4 separate regions of the Homo sapiens genome follow, and regions 1, 2 and 3 are each linked to region 4. The links come from fine-mapping of genetic effects on gene expression. A gene starts in region 4. Each other region holds a variant in brackets. All regions are shown on one strand. Distances are between the middles of the regions.

Region 1 (5,654 bases), 120 kb before region 4:
CCTTGAGACATGGAGAGCCGCAATTTTAACAGGCATAGAGCAGAGCGATTCTTCCCTTAGTCTGAGGAGGGGGAAGAAGGGTTTGAGGAGGAGGAAGCGATGGAAAAGGGGAAAGAGCTGGAATTCACTCAGCAGGTGCTAAGGCTGTCACACGTTTTCTATCCCAGTTTCCCTCTTTGAGCTCTAAAACACCTGGCCCTGAGAGGAGAGGGAATCAGAGACCAAGGAGGGGCACGAGCGGAGGGGCACGAGCAGAGGGTCTCCACCGCCCACCTGGGGAGAGGGCCAGGGAGAGGGTGGCCTGAAACCCCGCTCTGCTGGAAGCAGGGGCTGAGAGCAGAGATCTGCCCCCACCAGAGGCCTCTAAGGAGAGCAGATGAGGTTCAGATCTCCTTTTCAACAGCATCGTCTGTCTGGGCCCATGCATGCCAGAGTAAGATTGGGGTGAGTGCCATGGAGGATGCTGTAATGGGTAAAGGAGACTTAGGATTGTCTGAAGAGCTCATCTTCTGAAGAGCTCATCGGCTTTCTTTCCTTCTTTGCAGAAATATGCATTGGCAGCTGTTACGTGATGGGCATGACTCTACCAGATGACAACGACAATCAGCAGCATTACTTTCAACCGCCCACCTCTGACTGTCATTGGCCTCTAGCATAACAATGCCGGCCATATAATAGGTTCTCAATGCCTGTCCCGTGGAGTCCCATCGACTGTCCTTCTATTGAGCTCGTTCCCATCCCATGCATCCAGCTTGAACACATGGTCCTGCGTCTCAATCCTCTCAGGCCCAGGGTGGAAATCAGCCCTGCTGACAAACTGCCCCGTTCTCATGAGAGAGGACTACTTAGAGTATGGCAGGTCACGTGCAAGGCAGAGCCTTCGGGAAGCAGTGCCTGTGGCTCTGTTTCCTCTCTTCACCCCACTGTCCTTGCCATGAAAAAGCTCCTCATTGCGGTTCCTCAGAGTCCTTACTGTTGTTTCCCAGCCAGTCTCCCTGACAGAATTCAACTTCAACCACTTTCACTGGGCACTGACAGTGTGCTAGCATGTACATCCTCTCCTACAAGGTTGGCACAGAAAAATAAATCAGTAAAATACTGGCACATCCTCAGGAAGCTCACAGTCCACTGCAGGAGAGACACATAAATGTTTAAAATACAGTACAGTATGTGCTATAATCGACACACGCCTAAAAAGTGAGGAAAACACAAGTACAAAAACAATTAAACCTAACTGGAGTGGGTAGGAAATCCAGAGAGGGTGACATGTGAGCTGGGTTTTGATGGATGAGTAGGAGTTCTACAGGGGAACAGGTGTGATCTGGCAATGGCAAGACATTCTCTGTGGGTGGAGCATCAGGGCAGAGGCAAAGTGGGGTGGAAGAGACATGGATGAATATGGGGAGGGGCCTGGACACAGGTTCAAAGGCTCTGCACCACTCTACCAATCATGGACCTCATTCAGCGGGCAGGAGGGAGTCATCCAAGATTAAATCTTTCTTGATATATAATTCACGCACCATACAATTCACTCTTTTAAAGTGTACCACTCACTGGGTTTTAGTATTTTCAGGGTTATGCAACCATCCCCACAATCTAATTTTAGAACATTATCACCCCCAAGAGAAGCCCTGTGTCCATGAGTAGCCACCCTACTTTCCCACCACACTCCCACCTGCCCTCGGCAGCCACGCAGCTACTTTGTGTCTCCACAGATGTGCCTACTCTGGACAGTTCATGTCAATAAAATCATAGGGTGGGTGGTCTATTGGGTCTGGCCTCTTTCACTTAGCATGTTTTCAAGGTTCATCCATGTTGTCACAGTTATTTTCCTTGCCAAGTAACAGCCCATTGAATGGACATACCATATTTTGTTCACTAGCTGAGGGACATTTGGTTAGTTTCCACTTTTTGGCTAGTATGAATAATACTTCTACCACTTTCATGTGTAAGTTTTCATGTGGAAATATATTTTCATGTCTCTTGGGTACAGTCTGAGGAGTGGAAATGCTGAGTCCTATGAAAACTACGTTTAACATTTTGAGGAACAGACAAACTGTTTCCCAAAGTGGCTGGAACAATTTACATTCTCACCAGCACTGTTTGAGCATTACAATTTCTCCATATCCCCACCAACACTTGAGATTGCCTGTCTTTTTGATTAGAGCCATCCTAGTGGGTGTGAAGCGCCATCTCACAGTGCTTCTGAGTTATAGATCCTACTGACTAATAATATTGAGCATCTATTCATGTGCCATTCACCAAAGATTCTTCAGCAAGAGAAGCAGCTGTTTTGTAATGAATCCAGGGGTGAGCTCAACAGGAGAGAAACTAGAGGATGCTGTAATAATTCAGGAAGAATTCTTGAGATTCTGGGCCAGGGCCAAAGTAAGAGAATGGTAATAAGGGAAGACTCAGAAGCTCTTTCTGTGGCAGAGCCTGCAGGACATCACGGAAGACTAGATGTGTGCCACAGTGGAGAATAGGGGAGAAGAATGAAGCAAGGAGAGCTCCAAGCTTCCCAGTCTGAGCAACCAGGAAGATGCAGATGCCATGGACTGAGCTAGAGAAGCAGAGGGGAGCAGGGACTATGGAGGGAATGCTATGAGTCCAGTTTAAGACACGTGAAGTTGAGGTACCTGGGGAGACCCGTCTTGGAGGAAATGTCGAGTAGGCCACTGGAGAAGCAACTGTAGGGCTCCAGAGAGACCTAGAGACACATCTGTAGGGATTACCAATTGATTAGGAGGTGACAATTGAGTATCATGGGCTGCATACAAATTAATACACTTTGCAATAAATATAAGAAAGTTTTGGCAGCACCCTTTCAGTGGCAGTAGTGGAAATGGAAGGTAGATGAAAGTGATCTGAAGGGGGAATGAGAGTCAAGGAAGAGAAGGGAGTGAGTATGGATTGCGTCCTGTCTCCAGGAAAACTCTTCCCATTGCATCCATTATAAACGTGGATGTCAAGGAGCACCAAGACCACTCGCATCCCTTCTGAGATGGATGTGGCACCCAAGGGGTA[G/C]AAGAGGTAGGTGGTGTTGAGCTTTCCTGCTAGGCAAGTGGCCCTGGCAATGGAAAGCTATCACCTGCCAAAGAGCCAAGACTTCTGGCCCTCACCCTCCATGTCTCTACCTCCCCATTCCAATAAGGAAGTGGAAAATAGGAAAAACAAAAGGGGATCATGCTTCCAAAAAAATGTACTCCCTTTTAAAGAATTTCTGATGGGCAGAAAGTCTTTGAGAAAAGAGGGCATGAGATCAAATGGACCCTAACTATGCAGTGACAAATTGTGCATTTTTCAGTGGAAGGATGCCATTGGGGAAGGGGGACACCGGGAAGTTTGGGTTGTAACTACTTAGCTACAGCATCAGGACTGAAGTGTCATCTGGACTAGAGAACCAAGACAAATCTCTTTGAACCCAGAGTGAAGTTACTTTCTCCCTGCCTCTCCAGATCTATGCTCCAATCTCCTACATCCACTTCTGGGTTTAGGGAGGCTGCTCATAGAGACTGAATCAAAAGGTTCCCTTGAAAACAGGACACTAGTTTGGTTTGGCCAACAGGTAGCCCCACAGAAAAGGAGAACAGTTTCCAGCCATGTGGCCGTGGATTTGGCTGAGGCCCTCTACTGAGGCTCAGCTTGTGTTATGCAGTGCTCTCCAGGAAGTTATCCATTCCAGGGTCCTCACACCACTCCCCTGTTTTACTTTTCAGGCCCAAGGGTGATGACAGCTCCATTCTCAGAGGGTGCTTCCCCATCACTTATCATGTTCTCCAAACCTTGCACACATGTTTGTTAAGTCTCAAATTTCCCTGTTTGTGTGGGCCGTCTGTTTCCTGGTAGGACCCAAACTGACCCAAACCCTGATACTCAAGAGGATGGGGTACTTTGCTCTTTAGGAAACTCAGTCAAGAGTTTTCTGAAGCTCATGCAAGTAAATCAACGTTTCCCCCCAAAACTGTCCTTCTCCCTGGTCAACTAACTGGTTCTTGAGCCACACGTGACTCTTTTTCAGATCCTGCTGTTCTTCCTGCTCTATCTGGACTTGACATCCATGTATTGGGCCAAGCACAGTCTTCAGTGCTGTGGGTGCCAGAGTAGGACGTAGTCTTGCCCTCAAAGAAACATATGCAAGGGGCATATAGGCACATGCCACTATCACACCAGAGCCCCCATGAAGCCATCCCACTCCTAGGCTTCAGCAATCCCACTGGAAAACTAGAACATCTTCTGCCCACCCCCAACTTCATGGAAATGCTAAGAAATGAGGGGCAAGAACAATGCAGCCACGCTAGAGAAGGAAGCAGAAAGGTGAGGGGCCCTGGGAGGCCAGGTTGGCTTTCAAAAGCTTCTAAATCACTGCTTTCAAATGGAGGAGGAGCAAATGTGTCTCCAGAACCACTGGAATGTGAAAGTCACTCTCAAGAAGGAAGAGCAAAGCTGGCCAACCAGCCCACAGACAATGGGGCCTTGCAGGCAAAATCCTACAGTGGCTTAGCAGAATCCTAGGGCTTAGAAAACTCAAACAAAAGAATTCTCTCTCCAAGAGGCTACTGTCTGAGAATGAGCATCTCTCTACCGGCTCCTGTGACCTATATGTGGACAGAGGGGGCACAGCGTTCCTTACCTGCAGGGTGGTAACACCACTCTCCTAGAGTTGCACGCAAGGATTAAATGAGATCATTTCAGGGAGGCGCCCACTGTGGCTGACTCAGAAAGGTAAAGTGAAGGGCAGTTTCCCTTTTCCTCCAAGGAAAGCCACTCAGTTGTTTAACCATATCCTCTCTTCAGGCAGTTTGGGAAGACCCATGCCTAAGTGCAAGTGCCTTAAAAGTAGTGAACGTTCTACCCTACATTTTTGAAATAATCAACTCTACTTGAATTTTCCTATCAAAATATTAGGGGAAACGTCAATGACACTTCTGTCGTCCAGGGAAGACCAGGTCCTTGAGCCCATTTCTATGTAACTCTGTTAATTGAATAGTGTTTGCATCTCACAGTAGCCATGCTCGGTCACTGCCTTCATTCAGAGGCTGGAAATGAAACTGACATTTCAACACGGAACAAGCACATATTCCCAGCGGTCCCGCTGGATCCCTGATGTTCCTCATTTGCATTGCAGTAATTTTGACAATATTAAAAACAAGTTACACACAGGGAAATAAAGAGTTGTTAAATAGAAGAAGGTGAGGTAATACTTGGTTATCTGGAAATACAAATTAGGAGGAAAAAGCAGTATGAGGTTGTTCTTGGAAGTATTTGCTTGTTAAACCACATTTTGCAAGGACGTGAGGCAGAAGGGGATGCTCTGAGGGGCTCAAGGACGTCTTGGGAAGACTGTCACTGACCTGCTTGCAGATACTGATCTAATAAAGCAATGCTCTCATGACCTGTGGCCTAGGCACTCTCCGTCTTGGAGTACCAGCTGGAGACGAACCATCCCCGGCTGCCTGTCTCCAACCCTCACTCCAGTCACCATCCCAGAATTCTGGGCACAGCAAGACCTGGATGTGGACTCCGTATGACCAGAGTGGGGGAAAGCCAAATGGAAGGTTTGAGTGGAGCCTGACCACCAAACAGGCAGTCCCAGGGCCTGGAAGGGACTTGGCTCTGGGTGGAGAGAGGCAGCTGCCTGGCCAGGATGGCGG
Region 2 (5,654 bases), 61 kb before region 4:
TTAACTTAAGTAAACTGCTGTCTAAGGGGCTTCCATTTCTAGCACCCAAATGCAATGCCTATCAAACTTCCATGGAGCAGGGGAATCCCCCAGGGCAGGTCTGGGGAATTTCTTTATTCAATGGGAAGTTAATGACCCAGAGAAATAAAAAATCAATGAAAGGTTTCATTAGAATAGAAATTCACTCTGGCTAACATATTTGGTGTATTTTTTTTTTCTTTTGAGACGGAGTCTCGCTCTGTCGCCCAGGCTGGAGTGCAGTGGTGCCATCTCGGCTCACTGTAAGCTCCGCCTCCCGGGTTCACGCCATTCTCCTGCCTCAGCCTCCCGAGTAGCTGGGACCACAGGCGCCCGCCACAACGCCCGGCTAATTTTTTGTATTTTTAGGAGAGACGAGGTTTCACCGTGTTAGCCAGGCTGGTCTCGATCTCCTGACCTCGTGATCCGCCCGCCTTGGCCTCCCAAAGTGCTGGGATTACAAGCGTGAGCCACTACGCCCGGCCACATATTTGGTGTATTTTGTAGCAATGATTGGGGAGGGCATAAAGGCTCAACTCTTGCTGCCCAAAAGATAGGAAATAAGCACAAACGGCTCCTCATCTAATATATTATTGGTTCCGCTATTTTAATTTCATATTTTATTTTGGGGAAAATGAAGGGAAAGGACAAAAAAGTAAAAGACAAGGGCACTCAAATGTCCACTGATGGATGAATGACTACATGACATGAGATTTATACACATAATGGAATAGAATGCAGCCTTTAAAAAGGAAGCACATCCTAGCCAGGCGCGGTGGCTCACACTGGTAATCCCAACACTTTGTGAGGCCGAGGTGGGTGGATCACCTGAGGTCAGGAGTTCAAGACCAGCCTGGCCAACACGGTGAAACTCCGTCTCTACTAAAAATACAAAAGTTAGCCGGGCGTGGTGGTGGGTGCCTATAATCTTAGCTACTCGGGAGGCTGAGGTAGGAGAATTGCTTGATCCTATAAGGTGGAGGTTACAGTGAGTGGAGATCATGCCACTGCACTCCAGCCTGGGTGACAGAGCAAGACTGTCTCAAAAAAAAAAAAAAAAAAGTACGTTCTGACACATGCCTCAACGTGGATGAACCTCAAGGACATCATGCTAAGTGAAATAAGCAGGTCACAAAAGCACAAATATTGTGTGATTCTACTCATGTGAGGTATCTAAAGTAGTCCAAATCACAGAAACAGAAAGTAGACTCATATCTGCCAAGGGGTAGGGGAAGGGGGAGTTTGTGTTTAGTAGGCACGAAATTTCAGTTTTGCAAGATGAGAAAGTTCTGGGGAAGTGTCACGCAACAATGTGATATAGCTGACACAACTCAGTTGCACGCTTTAAAATGTTTAAATGGTAAATGTAATGTTATGTGATTGTAACCACATATTAAAATAAACTTTCAAATAAATTTTAAAGTTCCAAGGGCAGGCTGGGCATGGTGACTCACACCTGTAATCTCAGTACTTTGGGAGGCCAAGGCAGGCAGATCACTTGAGGTCAGGAATTCTAGACCACCCTGGTCAACATGGCGAAACCCCGTCTCTACTAAAAAAAAAATACAAAAATTAGCCAGGCGTGGTGGCATGCACCTGTAATCTCAGCTACTAGGGAGGCTGAGGCAGGAGAATAGCTTGAACCCGGGAGGAGGAGGTTGCAGTGAGCCAAGATCGAGCCTGGGCGACAGAGCAAGACTCCGTCTCAAAAAAAAACAAAAAAAGAAAAAAGGAAAGAAAAAGATTCAAGGGCAGAGGAGGGAAGAGGAGAGAGGAGACTTCATAAACCAAGGTGGGGAGACAAAAGAAGCGGATGGAGGCAGAGGAAGGGCAAGATAGGGGGCATGAAGAATGGGGGCCTTTCTGAGGAGTGGGCACACGAGTCTGGTGACACTGGGTCACTCACTGGGGCAGCAGGCATCAAAGGTCCACACCAGAGTCCTTTCCAACACCCGGGACTATTGTAGACATTCGCCTGCTCACTGGTCTCAGTTCAAAAAGAACCATGCAGCAATTCTTGGAGTTCAGACATTCTCACAGCCTGAGCTGCTTAGTACCTAGGAGGGGCTCAGCAAAGATCTTTCAAATCAATCAATGATCAAACAGTGCTAATCAAGTCCAAGGCGTCCTACATCCTGCTTTTGAGAGCGTCCTGGGAGGGCCCTCAGCTGCAGGGAAAGTCCACCACAGTAGCTACTAGTCACGGTGCTAGTGAAATTTAACTAAAATTAAAGAATATTAAAAATTTACCTTTTTGGAAACACTAGTCCCATTTCACATGCTCAACAGTCACATGTGGCTAGATGTTACCACACTGGGCGGCACAGAACATTCCCATAATTGCAGAAAGGTCTATGCACAGCATTGGTGTAGATGCTACCCTACCCTACACTACCCTGCCCTGCCCTACCCTACCCTAGCCTAGCCTACCCTAGCCTACCCTAGCCTATCCTGTAATAAAAAGAAGCATACCTGGGGCATTAGAAACTCTAGAGTACTAGAGATGACACATTACCTCTACCTTAATTTCTTCATTTGTAAAACAAGGATAATATTTCATCTAACTTATAGGGTTAAGTAGATTAAATTAGATAATACACGTCAAGCACAAAATCCCCGTCTCAGAGTACAGGCTCTACGAATGCCAACTGTCATTTTGTTGGGGAGAAGGAGGAGATAGCTGGTGCATGCATGTGCACACACATGCACCTGTGATTTCTTACAGAGAGAGACCATGACTTACCCTCCCCTCCCCCAGAGTGGGAACAGTTTTCAACAAGTGACTGGAATGGGTGGTACCTCCCTGATGCCCCACTGGGTAGAGGCCCTGTGGGCAGGTTCCAGGCAGTCTGGTTTCTCCTTTCCCACCTGCCTAACAGGAGTC[C/T]GCCCACATGGAGCATGGGAATCATGCTTTCTGCACGTGGGAGCCCAAATGGGTAGATGCAGCTCACAGAGCAGGCTCTAACTGAGCCCCCATGTGGCTATAGCAGGCTGTCCAAGGAATCCAATGAAGCAATGAAGGGGTCTGCAGACAGGAACTACCAAGTCAACAAAAACTCCCTCCATCACAGCCCTTCCCTGCAATGACAAGTCACAAACAGCAGAAACCAAGAGACCAGCTAGTATCGAGGAATTGTTCGTTTTCGTCGAAAGGGACGTTGGTGTGCAATGACCACCTTACAGCTTGTGTATCTGTACTCACACGGCTGTGTGTGTGTGCATATGTGTACTTATGTATGTGGAGCATATTATCAAGTGATTCTGAGATCCTGTATTCATGGAAGATTTTTAGTTGCAAAGCTTATTCGACTAGATCCCTTCATTCTTTTTCATCTTGCTTTATTTATTCTGTCCCGTTGATCTGTGGGTATATCCTCAGGGGTGCAATGCAGTCCAGTGGCCTGCTCTTGACAAAAGAGCATGATCCATTTTGGTAAATAGCTCCTGGGATGCTTCAGGGAGAGGTGCTGACAGGCCAAGATGCATACCCACTGTGCAGTAACATGTGAGTCCCTAAGAGAGTCCATGACCACCATGTGAAACCAGACAGACCACAAGCTTCTGGCAGCTCTCAAGGGGCTGGCAAGATGACAGGACTGTGACAAGCTAACTGCCCATTACCACACTGGGCAGGACCTCACAATGCTGCTGATCAAAATTAAAATGAAAGATTTATTATGGCTGAGCAAGTAAAAGAAGGAAAACATCCAAAAGATTCCAAACTGACTTATCCAACAAGAGACACGCCTGGCTAAAGGATTCGGTTTTTGTTTTTTGTTTGTTTGTCTTCAGACGGAGTCTCACTCTGTCACCCAGGCTGGAGTGCAATGTCATCATCTCAGCTCACTGCAACCTCCGCCTCCCAGGTTCAGGTGATTCTCAAGCCTCAGCCTCTCAAGTAGCTGGGACTACAGGTGCATGCCACCACACCGAGCTAATTTATGTAATTTTAGTAAAGACGAGGTTTCACCATGTTGGCCAGGCTGTTCTCGAACTCCTGACCTCAAGTGATCCACCCACCTTGGCCTCCCAAAGTGCTGTGATTATAAGCATAAGCTACCGCGCCCTGCCAAGGATTAGGTATTTTTTAAAATCCAACACATTTTTCTTTTAATGGATCACTTCTCAATGAGTAATGTTTTAACAGGAGGGGGGTTCTGTAAGAGATAGAAAAAAAATCTAATGGCTTTGTCCCAAGATCATTTGTCAATAAAAGCTACTGACCATTTAATATTATTTTAAATTCATAATTCCTTAATCGGCATGGTTTTAGAGCTCACAAAAGATGTTTTGAATCACAGGAAGAAAGCTGTATTTTCTTCATGAGATTAATAATCTAATTTGGAAGGACGAGGAAGGCAGTGGGTGAAACGTAGAAAGAACACGACAGGAAGGTACAGGACAAAGGGTCTCCCCTGACAGGGCCATGGTGGGAAATGAAGATGTGGGTTTCCAGACTCTTCTCAGATGGATCTGAGCATTCCTCATGGGGCTGCCTGGATGGATGTGTGGCTGCCAGGTAACACTTGCTTTGAACAAAGGTTCTGAGCCCAGAGGTTTGAAAACCACTGGCCTTACAATGCCAGACACTGAGCTTCGAGGATGTTGAGGAAGAGTTGCTCCTCCCTTCCCGCAACACCGCCAAGAGGGAAGGGTGAGGGGAAGGGCCAGGCTGCCTTCCTCTTTTCTGTTCTTTATGAGATATGAATCCCTAGAGGCCAAGGGGAAAGCCGAAGGTCAACTGCCCACCTCCGCCAAGGTTCCTGATAACACATCTCAGAGAAGCTCCTCTCCCACCCACAACTGCAGGACTGGCTCTTCAAGGAACACGCCCAAGGCAGCCCAGGAGGCCTGGCCTGCAAAGGCTCTGCCCAGCAGGCACAACTCATGTCTATTCTCACTCCCTACTAGAAACAAGGACCAAGAAAAGCAATTCCAAACCTGAGGAGAGCATTCCTTCTCCTGAGGGTATGGGCTGAGGAGCCACACAGGCCTCGATATGTTCTCCAGCGAGCTCCTGGAGCGAGAAGTACCACAGCCTTGTACCATGATCACAAGTGAAAGACCTCACCTTTCAGAGACCAAACCCTGCTCTGTGAAAGGGTAGCTGAGGCTACTCCACAGAGTTTCAGCAGGAGACCGCCATCCTCCCCATGCTCTGCCAATCCCCCGCACTCCTCCTGACATTAGCATGATGGGGCCAGGCTGTAGCATTCACTGATGTGGCCAGAATACTAACCCATGCATGGCTTCCCATGACACTGAATAAATCCATGATTCAAAGACAGCAAAAGGAAGCCCCTTTGCCCGTGACGGGCAGCATGCACAGTGGGTACAGGTACACACACGTGGGCACCCTCCCCAGCTCTGTGAGCTTTGACAAAGGAAGCTTGGGCAAAGTACCTTGCCTCTCTGCACCTGTTTCCTCCTCCATAAAATCAACATAATACTTGTACCAACCTCACAGCGCTGTTGTGAAGATTAAATGAGGTAACACAGGAAAAAGCACTTAGAACAATGCCAGCCCACACAGGTGCTGGGCTGCATAAGTCATTATTAACTACATGTCCACCCAAAATGTCCTTCTATTTTTGGGTCCTGCATCACTGATGAGTTTCGGTGACGGAGATTAGAAT
Region 3 (5,654 bases), 110 kb before region 4:
CCGTGCAGAAATCAAATAATCCACTTCAGTGAGTGAAAATACCTATTTAATAACATTAAGGGAACACTTTTCAACTGAACTGGCAAGAAGTGAGAGTATGGGGGAAGACACACACAGGGTTTTCTTTCTCAAGAGAATGCCTGGATGGAAAATAACCTATTTTACATGATTTAGCTCTGCTTTGAAAGGCAGAGACTGCTGCCAAATGCACTTTACTTCTCTGCTCTTGCCTAATAGTAGGTATCTGAGGAGCGGGATGCCAGAAGTGGAACCCACAAGAGCTCTTGAAATTACCTTTGTGAATAAAGACAAAAGTTCAAAAAGTCAAAAGAGCTGGCTCGAGCTCAGAAAAGAGAGAACAAATGTGGCAGCAAAAGAACGCATTGAGGAAGTCTGAGTGTGTGCTATTGTGGTTCGTGAGCGCCCAGAGAGAAGCAGAGACAGGGAGACTGAAGGGCTCTGTGCCACACACCCCATTTATCAGCTTCCCTAAGTCCCGACCACCACATTCAGCTCTGTACAATTTTTGCCACTTTTAAGATCCTTTGAAACTATCACTTTAATCACTGCATGTGTTTCTTCAAAGGCTCTTGCGATTCTGATCTTGCTGACCAAGGCACCATGTGTTCGTCTACATACATGCACCACGCTGACATACAATGAAAAACAAAGTTGTATTTGTATTCTGATTATTTTGCATCTCAGTTTGGTTATGAGAGAGTGAGCCAACTGAACCGTGATCCTACATAAAGTGACCTAATATTGCACAAATGTTTGAATACAACTTAGCAGTTGTTTGTGATGGGCAAACTGAATTCCAGAAATTATTAACTTAGCCAAAGTAAAACACAGAGCTAAAAAGGAGTTGTTCAATAGGCACAGCATTTCAGTTTTGCAAGACGAAAAGGTTCTAGAAATCTGTTGCACAACAATATGCATAGAATTAACACTGCTGTACTGTGCACTTAAAAATGGTTAAGATGGTAAACTGTATGTTGTTTTACCATGATTAAAAAAATCAGCAAAATTTACCTTTTTAAATATAAAAAATGCATTATTCACTCCACGCCCTGCACTTGGCTACAACCATAGCAGACTGCACTAATTAAATGGAATTTCCTGTCACAAAGAAAGAGAGAGAAAGCTAAATGGGGTTACTCTGTTTTAAAGATGTGCTTCGAAATGGAAGCAGAACAAATAAGGGGAGACATTTAGGATTGGAGAACCAAACTGGCTTGATTTCTCTGGAACAATCCACCATGCCAATACTTACTTGGCCATCTTAGCACTTTTACTTTATAATTCTTAACATGGTAACCTTTCAGACATGTGATCCAGAGCTACTCAGGTGACCATCCTGAAGCAGGCCAGAACCTGGTGATGTCCATTTCTTCCTTATCTTATGTTAGACTCCAAACCCCCACCCCCGCTCCAATCCTTCTCTGCTCAGGCTATCTGCAGGGAGTGAGATGTATGTATTGCGTCATTTTGCAGTTACCTGATGGCATTACCATAATTAGGCATTATGTTTTGTTTTGTTTCTAACTTGCTTATAGAATTTTAGATCAACATGCGAGTAGGCTCCCAGTCCAGGAAATCTAGTTTCTGTTAACTGGTGCCTCTGTGTTAGTTTCCTAGGCCTGCCCTAACAAAGGACCACACATGGGGTGGTTTAAAACAACAACCTGCTATCACATAGTTTTGGGGGCTGGCAGTCCTAACTCAGTACGTTGGTAGGGATGGTCCTTCTAAGGGATCTGAGGATGAATCTGCTCCATGCCTCTGTCCTAGTTTCTGGCAGGTTCCTTGGCGTATAGATGCTTCACTCCATTCCTCTGTCTCCACAGGGCCTTCTTATAAGGACACCAGTCCTATCAGATTAGGTTCTCTGTGCTATTCCAGTATGACCTCATCTTAACTAATTACATCTAAAACAATCTCATATCCAAAAAGGTCATGTTCTGAGATACTATGGTGCTACGGTTTGAATGTTTGTCCTCTCCAAAACTCAAGTTGAGATTTAATTGCCATTGTAAGAGTGTTGAGAGGTAGGGACTTTAAGAAGAAATTTAGGCCATAAGGGCTCCTCCACCTTCATGGGTCAGTTTAGTACCTTTAAAAAAGGGCTCCTGGGAGTGGGCTCTTGCCCTCTCTTGCCACGCGATGCCTTTTGCCATGTTATGACAGTAAGAAGACTCACATCACATGCAGCAAAATGTACTTCCTGCCTCCAGCACTGTAAGACATAAACTTATTTTCTCTATAAATTACCCAGTCTGTGGTCTTGTTATTGCAAAACCCAAAATGAACTAAGACAGGGACATAGCACTTCAACATA[T/C]CCTTTTTGGGGAGCACAGCCTCTCAAAAGATGAACCCAGACCAGCAGCATCCGCATCACCCGGGAATCTGTTAAAAATGGAAATTCTGGCTTTCAAGGTTAGGAAAAAAGGAAAAATTGAAATTCTGGCTGGGCGTTGTGGCTCACAACTGTAATTCCAGCAACTTGGGAGGACAGGGTGAGAGGGCTGCATAAGCCCAGGAGGTCGAGACCAGCCTGAGCAACAAAATGACACTGAAGCTACAAAAAATAAAAAATAGCTGAGTGTGGTGCCACACACCTGTAATCCCAGCTACTCAGGAGGCAGAAGTGGGAGAATCACTCGAGCCCGGGAGTTCAAGGCTGCAGTGAGCTATGATTGCACCACTGCATTCCAGCCTGGGTGACAGAATGAGACCCTGTCTCAAGAAAAAAACCAAAAAGTCAATTCTGAGCTGGGCCCAGTGGCTTACACCCCAGTCCCACCTACTCAGGAGGCTGACGCAGGAGAAGCGCTTGAGTGCAGGAGCTTGAGGCCAGCCTGGGTAACATAGGGACACCCCGTCTCTAGGAAAAATAAAATTAAATAAAAATGCAAACGCCTAGGTCCCACCCCAAACCCACTGAATACAAAACTCTGGAAGCCTGTCAAATAGTCAAACAAGCCCTTCAGGCAATTCTGATGCATGCTAAAGTTTAAGAGCCACTGTTTTAAACTGTATATTTTTTAAAAAAATCATTTTATAATGCTAAGTGTGCATCTTGCCCTTCCCATAGAATCACTAACCCTTTGAGGCAGTCTTTCTCATGTTACTTCTCCTATAGTAGTGATCAACTTATTGCTTACATAAAACAGGCTAGAATTTGGAAGTCTGTGCTAGATAAAGTATGTGCTCACATACTTACAAAGTATGTGCTAGATAAAGTATGTGCTAGATAAAGTATGTGCTTACATAAAACAGGCTAGAATTTGGATTGTGTACAAGACACACAATCTTCAGATGTTTTATTTTGTCTGTTCGTGAATACTATGAACTGACTGCCAATATTAAAAATCTAGATTACAGACTTTTCCTGAAAAAACTGGAAGAGCTGACAACACTGAATCCAAAATTACACACAGGAACAATCAACTGATTGGTGGCTGTCCCTTCGGGGTGGGGCCTCAGGGCTCCAGTGGGCCACAGTCTCCACGGCTGGTGCATCCCTGACACTGAGGCTTCATGGAGGCCAACCATCCTCATTTACATTGTATGCCTAGCCCCTAAGGGCACTTGGGTTTGAACAATGGCTGGGCAGACAACAGCTAGACAGAAAAATGCATAACTATCCACAGACCAAAATACCTAGCTGTTTCTGAGCAGCAAGTTTAGGAATGGAAAGCTAGAAGCCAGGGCTGCTGAGGAACAATGCCACACACTTTAGAAATAGCATCGACTTTAAGTTCTGTGAGTTTGGCTTCGCCCTTCACCAGATAACAAGGCGAGTTATGAAACGATTCAAGCACTGAAGGTGAAAGTTTTGTAGTGGCTTGCCCGTGTGATGATGTGTGGGTGAGCTGCAACACAGTAAGAAGAAATTTTGGTATTGGCACGACTTCATTAGAGAACAATGGGACGTGGAGGACATGAAATCCGAAATCGTGATTTTAAGAAATCACATTTGCCTCCTTCAGGTATATGCTATGCTGAGCTGCAATGACAGATCCTCTGTGAATGATTCTCCAGTGAAGCAAGTAGGGGAAAAACATATGCCTTTAAAGCGACTTTCAGGCTTGCAAAAATGGTAAAGGGCAGATCCTGGACTGGGATTTGACAACTGCACCATTAATGCAGATCCCAAATAGTTTCTGTACAAAGGACAGCAAAGATACCTTTTTGGGTCAGTGGCAGTGGTTCATGAAATACCAAGAGAAGGGGTAGTTTGGGATGTTTATTTCAGTGGGAAGGATGGGCATGGAGTCTGGAGGACAGAACTCACATATATAAGGTAGAGACAGGCACAAGTTTTCAACAAGGGGACCCGCTTCATCACTAACCCTCAGAGGAAGTTCGACTTGCCGTGGACTTCATGTCAAAGCAGTAAATCCAAAAACTATATCCACACGGAAACTACTGAACCAGAAGATTCAGACACACAGCCACTATTACCTCCTGGGGTTATATTCTGACAAGTTCTTCATTTTGATTCTCTCCCTAACCACCCCTGTACTTCAGCATTCTTAAGAAAGAAAAGTGGAAATGGAATCTGTCACTGATGACTAAAGCTTCTGTTAAAGACATTAGAATTTAGGATGATAATTTTCTCAAAGGCAAAGACGACTGTTTCTCCTGGACAGATTTAATATTTTCAATAGTCTATTAAAAATTATAAAACATAACCTCCAAAACAAGTATAGCAAAAAGAAAAAAAATTATAACACACCTCTTCAAGGTAACGTAAATACATAAAAAATGGGACAGACTTCCAAGATAATAGTAAGGGTGCACTTTCTGTTCTTAGGTACTTAGTGCCACTGTATTATCAGGGTTCTCCAGAGAAACACGCATCATACCGTGCATATGCATCCTACGCATCATATGCATATATAGGAATTTGCTCACATTATTATGGAAGCTGGCAGGTCCCCAAATCTGCCAGGTGAGTCGGCAAGCTGGCAACTCAGTAGAGCTGCTGGTGTAGTTCCAGCCCAAGCCATCAGGCTCAAGACGCAGGAAGAGCTGATGCTTCAGTTTAAGTCCAAAGGCAAGGAAAAGCCGGTGTCCCAGTTCAAAGCCACGTTAGGCAGGAAAAATGGTCTCCTACTTAGGGTCAGCCTTTTTGTTCTATTCGGGCCTCCCGCAGATTGACGGAGCCACCCACATTCCCGAATGTGTTCTGCTTTATTCAGTCTACTGATTCAAATGCTAATCTCACCCCAAAAACATCCTCACAGAATAATGTCTGACCAAATATATGGGATCCTCATGGTCCAGTCAAGTTGACACATGAAGGTAACCATCACAACCCCTCAGATGCCTGGGTGGTGAAGAGGCAAAAATAGTCAGCTCCTAGGGGACACTAGAATTTATGAAGAGCAAATAACCAGGGACCTGTCTAGCCCTGTGAAGGATGTGGCCAGCTCCTAAGGGCCCTCCCGCTCACTCCATCTAAAAGCTGTTCCTAGTGAGATCGCTCAGCTTTCATTTAGGGTCATCATGCAGTTAACAATGTAAAGCTGTATGCCAAGATGCAACTATTAGAAAGCCTACAATTGAAAAACAGTACAGAGCCCCACTGGTGGAGCAATCGGAATTCTCATCCATTGCTGCAGGGACTGTAAAACGGTATGCTCACT
Region 4 (5,654 bases):
AACATATCCATGAAATGTGATGTTTGAAGAGCTTTCCTTATTTACTCACCAGATCATCAATATACAGAGAGCTCTTCCTAAGCACAGGCCCCCATCTATGTTTTCAGTCGATACTAAATATTTAGAGAAATACTCTGTTACAGTAACTTTTAAAAAAATTCTACACTATCATTTGAATTTTTAAAAAAATTTAGTTAAGCTTAGTTTCCATAATTCTCATTAGGCAATCCAGGATGTGGGTGTTTTTTAATTTCCTTTTCATGGAGAAAAAGGAAGCTTTGTATCAGGACATCAGATGTATATGGGAAAATACATATTTCAATGCACATATAAGTAAATACATATTTTGTTTGTTTAAAGATCCTTTTGCCTACTCCACTCACAATGTAAATACACCACAGTCAAATTCCATAAATTCAGTTTTAAATGTATGTATGAAAACTAGGTTTTCTACTAAAGTTGACCAGAGCCCAAAACACTCTGTCTAATACACAGTCAAAGGAAACAGCAATCAGCCCTTAGATGCCCCGAAAGAAACTATTCTTTGTTTACCTAGAAACTGAAAGATTTTACACTGAGAATCACAGCTGCTACAGCAATGGAGGTATGCTCTGAATCCAGATAGCCATATTAGACTCTCATTGATTTGTTAAAAATTTAACATTGTAAATGAAACCAAAGCAACCACCAACACCAACCAGGTAATTAAATTCCTGGTTGGAAGAAGTTTCAAAATCCAAGCCCAATGTCAACATCTGGCAAGTCTCCATTTACCACCTACCAATACTTGCTCAAATTACACTGAAAATTTAGATAGAGGGTAAAGTACTAAGATTTTTAAAACCTATTAATTAGTTTGTACCCTCCGTTTAAATCACACATAAAAGCTAACTCCAATTGCAATTATAATCTTAGTGTTTGTCCTGTTGTCACAGAAGGGCAAGGGCTGACAAGAGTTAGCACGGACAATTAAATCTGATTTTGTCCAGGGGACTGGATCAATATACTGTGCATCATAATCTAGCCCTGAACTGCTGCCTCTCCTCCACCCCCAGGCCCTTGGATCAGGCGGTTTACCGCTGGGTTAGTAACTCTTTTCTCTATGATTTGCGCATCTCCAGAAAGGGCGAGGGAGACGCCTGATTCAAACTGCATTTGTTTACCACCCAATGGCCCCATCGTTATGCATTTCCACAATCCAGGAGGGTACGCTTCTGGTACCCCCTTTACCTGCCAAGTTCCTCGCCGGTGTCGTAGTAATCATCCACGTTTTCCTGCCTGAACACGGTCATGATAAACTGTCACGCCTCACCAAAGCCCAGGGCACTTCAGCTCCGCTTCCCAGACCATCACCACCGCTCCTGCGCCTCCGTAGCCCCCTCATGCATCAGTCTCCAGTCCTTTTGAAGAAAAAAAAAAGGCAATAATAATAGTAAAATGGCAACCCCAAAAGGAAGTAGACCTCCCCGGCGCTAAGACCCCGCTCGCTGAAGACCGGGTCTCCGGAGCTGCCCCTCCTCGCGGGGTGGAGAGGAGCACCCTTTGTTAAAGCTGGGCGGCCAGGGACGCCCCCGACCCCTCAGCCCCGCGCGCGCGTGGGGCCGGGCACCACGGCACCCCGAGGTCGGCGTCCCCAAACGCTGGGCGGTCTGTTGGGATCAGAACCGGCTCCGGAAGTGACTGGCCTCCCCGCCTCCCCTTTCTCTGCACACATGCCCACCCAGCTTTCCCACCTCCAGGGACGCCGCGGAAGAATGAAGCCCTCGCCCAGACGGTACGCGCCTCACTGGGAGCAATCTCTCTCCAGCCTGCGGCAACGGTGGCACCCCCGCGCCACCTCTCGGCTCCCGCGCCTCTCCTAACACCGTGGCCACCCTCTCCCCTTCCCCGAGCGAGGCAGTCCCCAGAGCCACATTCCTGGCGACTCCCTCTCCGTTACCCGGCCGACCCGGCGTGCGGCCGCCCGGGGGAGCAAGGGAGGGAAGGGAGCGGCCCACCGAGGCGCAGCAGTTCGCTCCAGATCCTCGCGCCCCGACACAAAGCGCCTGGTCGGGCCGGCGCCACCTGTTCTCACCCGGCCCGCGGGGCTGGGGAAGCCTCCCGGCTGCGATCGCACTTCTCCCCGAAGCCAAGTTTCCCTCCGCCTTGGCCTTCCCAGTTGCTCGAGGCACTGCCCGGACAAACCCCACCGCGCCCTGGCTGGGAAAGCAAAAGCTGGCGCCGGGGGTCGGGGGGACCGGGGAGCCGCGCCTGGCTACTCACCCGGGCGCCTGGGAGCTCCCCCGGTCCCTCCGGAGCGCTGTCGGAGGCCGACCATAGGCGCCAGCGCCGGAGACTAGCCGGGGCGGCGGCGGGAACACAGCTAGGGAGTGAGTGGGGGGCGCAGATCCCTCCCAGGCGCCGGCCCCAGACCCTGCCGCTGCGAGTTGCCGAGTCCCCTCCGCGGAGGGAACAAAGTCCCCGGCGTTGGCTCGGTCCGGCTGTCCTCCTCACACTCCGAAGCAGCCTCTCGGCTCCTTGCCGCCTTTTGGGCGGAGGGCGGCCGGCAGGCGGCCAATGGGGACCCTGCAAGCGGGCTGGCGGCGCGGCCCACCCACCTCCGAGCTGCCCTGCCAGGCCGGCGCTGCGGGTTCTGCGCGGCGCTCGCTGCTCCTCCCAGCTCCGCGCTCCGGGCTCGCTGGCGCGCTCTACCGCGCACACCCCGCACACACCCACTCGCCCCACACCCACGCCGGCCGGGGAGCCAGTGCGTCCGCCCGGAACGCGGGCGCCCCACCTGTGACACATTGCTAAGCTGCCCTCTGACTGGGTTCTAGGGAAACACGGTTCTTCCGTCCCGAGATGTGTACTGGGATCCCAGCTTGTGCCGGGCACGGTGCTTGGTATGGGAAAATCACATAGAACAAAACAGATTTTTTTAAATCCCTGCCTTCCGGAAACCTGCATTCTGGTGGGACAGATAGATAATAAATATGTAAGCTAATTAATAAGGTAATTTTGGAGGATCAGTCCTACGTTTACCACGAAACAGGTTAATGGAATAGAGAATGGCAGGAAGGGAGCGTACCTCATTAGACTGGGTTCCTCTGCCGGACTGGTGTTGGAGCCGAGGCTTGAAGGCAAGAAGGTTTGCAATCTGAAGAAAGGGTTGAGGTCTCCGAGACCCAAAGAAGCAACAGAGACGCAGAGTTTATTTGCGCTATCCCATATGCTATTGGCTATTGTTGAGCTGAAATGTAGCTAGTCCCAAATTAATTGTGCTGTAAGTGTAAAATACACATTAGAGTCCAAGACAGTATGGATATGAGAATGAAAAATATCTCATGAATATTTTTATATTCATTACACTTTCAAATGATAGTATTTTGGATACGTTGGGTTAAACAAAATATATTATTAAAATTAATTTCACCTGTTTACTTTCTTTTTTTTGAGACGGAGTCTCACTCTGTCGCCAGGCTGGAGTGTAGTGGAGCGTGGCAACCTCCACCTCCAGGGTTCAAGTGATTCTCCTGCCTCGGCCTCCCCAGTAGCTAGGACTACAGTCGCGCGTCACCATGCCCAGCTAATTTTTGTATTTTTAGTAGAGACGGGGTTTCACCGTGTCGACCAGGATGGTCTCCATCTCTTGACCTCGTGATCCGCCCGCCTGGGCCTCCCAAAGTGCTGGGATTACAGGCGTGAGCCACCGCGCCCGGCCTCACCTGTTTACTTTTTAAAAGGTGGCCACTAGAAAATATAACAGTACCTATGTTGCTTGCATGAGATTTCTGAGGACTGTGCTGGTCTACACAAAGATCCCATATCCACTGGAGACCTCTATCCACTTTCTCTACTTCCCACCCCTTGCTCCCACCTAATGTTTGGGTGGAGACGAAGAAGGGTTGATTCCCCACATCCCACTGCTGGAGAACCCCAAACGGTGAAAAGCTCCTAAAGGGAAATCTATTTTACTGCCTAGAATGATGAAAACTGACAGATGAAGAGATTTCCGATCCATACCGTTGTTCAAATCCCCAGGCTTTCTAAACTGAGTTGGTTCAAATCTCTGTGGTTCAACAGAAATTTTCAACTGTGAAGATTTTGGCCTCTTGAAAACAAGGCAAAACAAAACAAAAGAATACCCCTCAGGCCTTATGTCAAATCCTAGTCTTTTTTTTTTTTTTGAGACGGGTTTTCGCTCTTGTGGCCCAGACTGGAGTGCAGTTGTGAAATCTTGGCTCACTGCAAACTCCGCCTCCGCCTCCCGGGTTCAAGCGATTCTCCTGCCTCAGGCTACCCAGTAGCTGGGATTACAGGCATGTGACTATGCCCGGCTAATTTTGTATTTTTAGTAGAGACGTGGTTTCACCATGTTGGTCAGGCTGGTCTTGAACTCCTGACCTCAGGTGATCCTCCCGGCTCGGCCTCCCACAGTGCTGGGATTACAGGCGTGAGCCACTGCGCCCAGCCAAATCCTAGTCTTAAATAACATTGCATTAATGACCCACAGGAAGGGCACACAGGAATCAAGGGGAAGTCCCCAAATTGGGAGATGGTATTAGCTTAAGCAGTGGGCTTGATAATACAAAAGGGTCTTGAGAGGTGAGAAATACAGTCAAAAATAACAACAACAACAAAAAAAGAGTGATTCATCTGGGAAAATGCAAATGAATACATCTGTTGGGAGAAAAAATTTAAAACACAGATGTTTGGGATAAACTTGGAAGGTGTTTATGGATGACTGCCATATGGGTAATATTTATTTTCTGCAAAATAAAAAATATATTGTCCGAGGCAATTAAAAGGACTGAATCTATTTGGCAGCTAGAATGTCTTAACTACCCTAATGGACAATGATGTTCACCGGAGATTATCTGGAGTAGTGAAAAAGAGCATGAAATTTGGAGTCACAAAATTAGATCTAGTATTGGTGGAACCATTTAACAGCTTAATAACCTTGGATGAGTCACTAACCCCCGAGCTTTTTGTGTACACCAATTTAGACAAGCATTTTAGAAAGGGGAAATGTGGTCATTTAAAAACATATTCACAAATTCTTTGACACTCCCCCAATCAAGAGGTGGAGTCTAATTCCCCTCTCAATAAATATTCACCAACCCTATCTGCTTGCTTCTAAGAAAAGGTAGTGGCAGTGGCACAGTGTAATTTATTTCCAAGGTTAGGTCATAAGGCATTAGAGCTTCTGCCTGCTTGCTTCTCTTTCTCTCTCTCTCTCTCTCTCTCTCTTTCCCTCCCTCCCTCTCCCCCTCCACCCACTCTAAAGCCTTCAGCTGTCATGATTACCCTAGGGCTGCCATGTAGAGACATGTGACAAAACCACAGAAAGAACGAGAGATGCCCAGAGAAGCCAGCTGTCCAGCCCCACCCTCACTCCCAGTTGTTTATATCTTCCAGTTCAAGTTCTGTGAGCAAAATCAATGACTTTTAATGTTTTAAGTCATTATTTCAGAGTGGTTTGTTATGTAGCAATAGATTATCTTCTTAAAAAGAAAAATTAAGAAAACTTTTCTCTTAACACATACCAGGTTCCAGACAGATGAAATAATTCTCTCAATTAATCTTTAAATAAATTAGCGGGGTTTTTATTTAATAAATAAATAAATAAATAAGTGGTTATTTCCACTTTACATGTAAACGTCTCAGTTTCATCA

What was found. PIP is the estimated chance that this variant, and not a neighbour inherited with it, causes the effect.
Region 1: its variant is fine-mapped to the expression of DAPK1 in whole blood (TOPMed, PIP above 0.99).
Region 2: its variant is fine-mapped to the expression of DAPK1 in whole blood (INTERVAL, PIP 0.98).
Region 3: its variant is fine-mapped to the expression of DAPK1 in whole blood (TOPMed, PIP above 0.99).

What each region holds. Positions count from the first base shown.
Region 1 is chr9:87,614,770-87,620,423 of GRCh38, reverse strand. All of the region lies in intron 3 of DAPK1 (death associated protein kinase 1), which reads right to left. Among named protein-coding and RNA genes, the nearest start is that of DAPK1-IT1, 64 kb to the right of the region's middle. RefSeq lists an enhancer at 279-779. The variant G/C (reference allele first, on the strand shown) is at 3,028.
Region 2 is chr9:87,556,094-87,561,747 of GRCh38, reverse strand. All of the region lies in intron 2 of DAPK1 (death associated protein kinase 1), which reads right to left. Among named protein-coding and RNA genes, the nearest start is that of DAPK1-IT1, 5.5 kb to the right of the region's middle. RefSeq lists an enhancer at 1,820-1,989. The variant C/T (reference allele first, on the strand shown) is at 2,903.
Region 3 is chr9:87,608,566-87,614,219 of GRCh38, reverse strand. The region is part of intron 3 of DAPK1 (death associated protein kinase 1); the gene reads right to left. Among named protein-coding and RNA genes, the nearest start is that of DAPK1-IT1, 58 kb to the right of the region's middle. The variant T/C (reference allele first, on the strand shown) is at 2,339.
Region 4 is chr9:87,494,716-87,500,369 of GRCh38, reverse strand. It overlaps DAPK1 (death associated protein kinase 1), which reads right to left and starts at 2,503. Exons shown (of 26, transcript NM_004938.4): 1 at 2,263-2,503; 2 at 1,231-1,400. The coding sequence starts at 1,292. RefSeq lists silencers at 1,545-1,654, 1,865-2,054, 2,425-2,774, 2,795-2,854 and an enhancer at 1,397-2,154.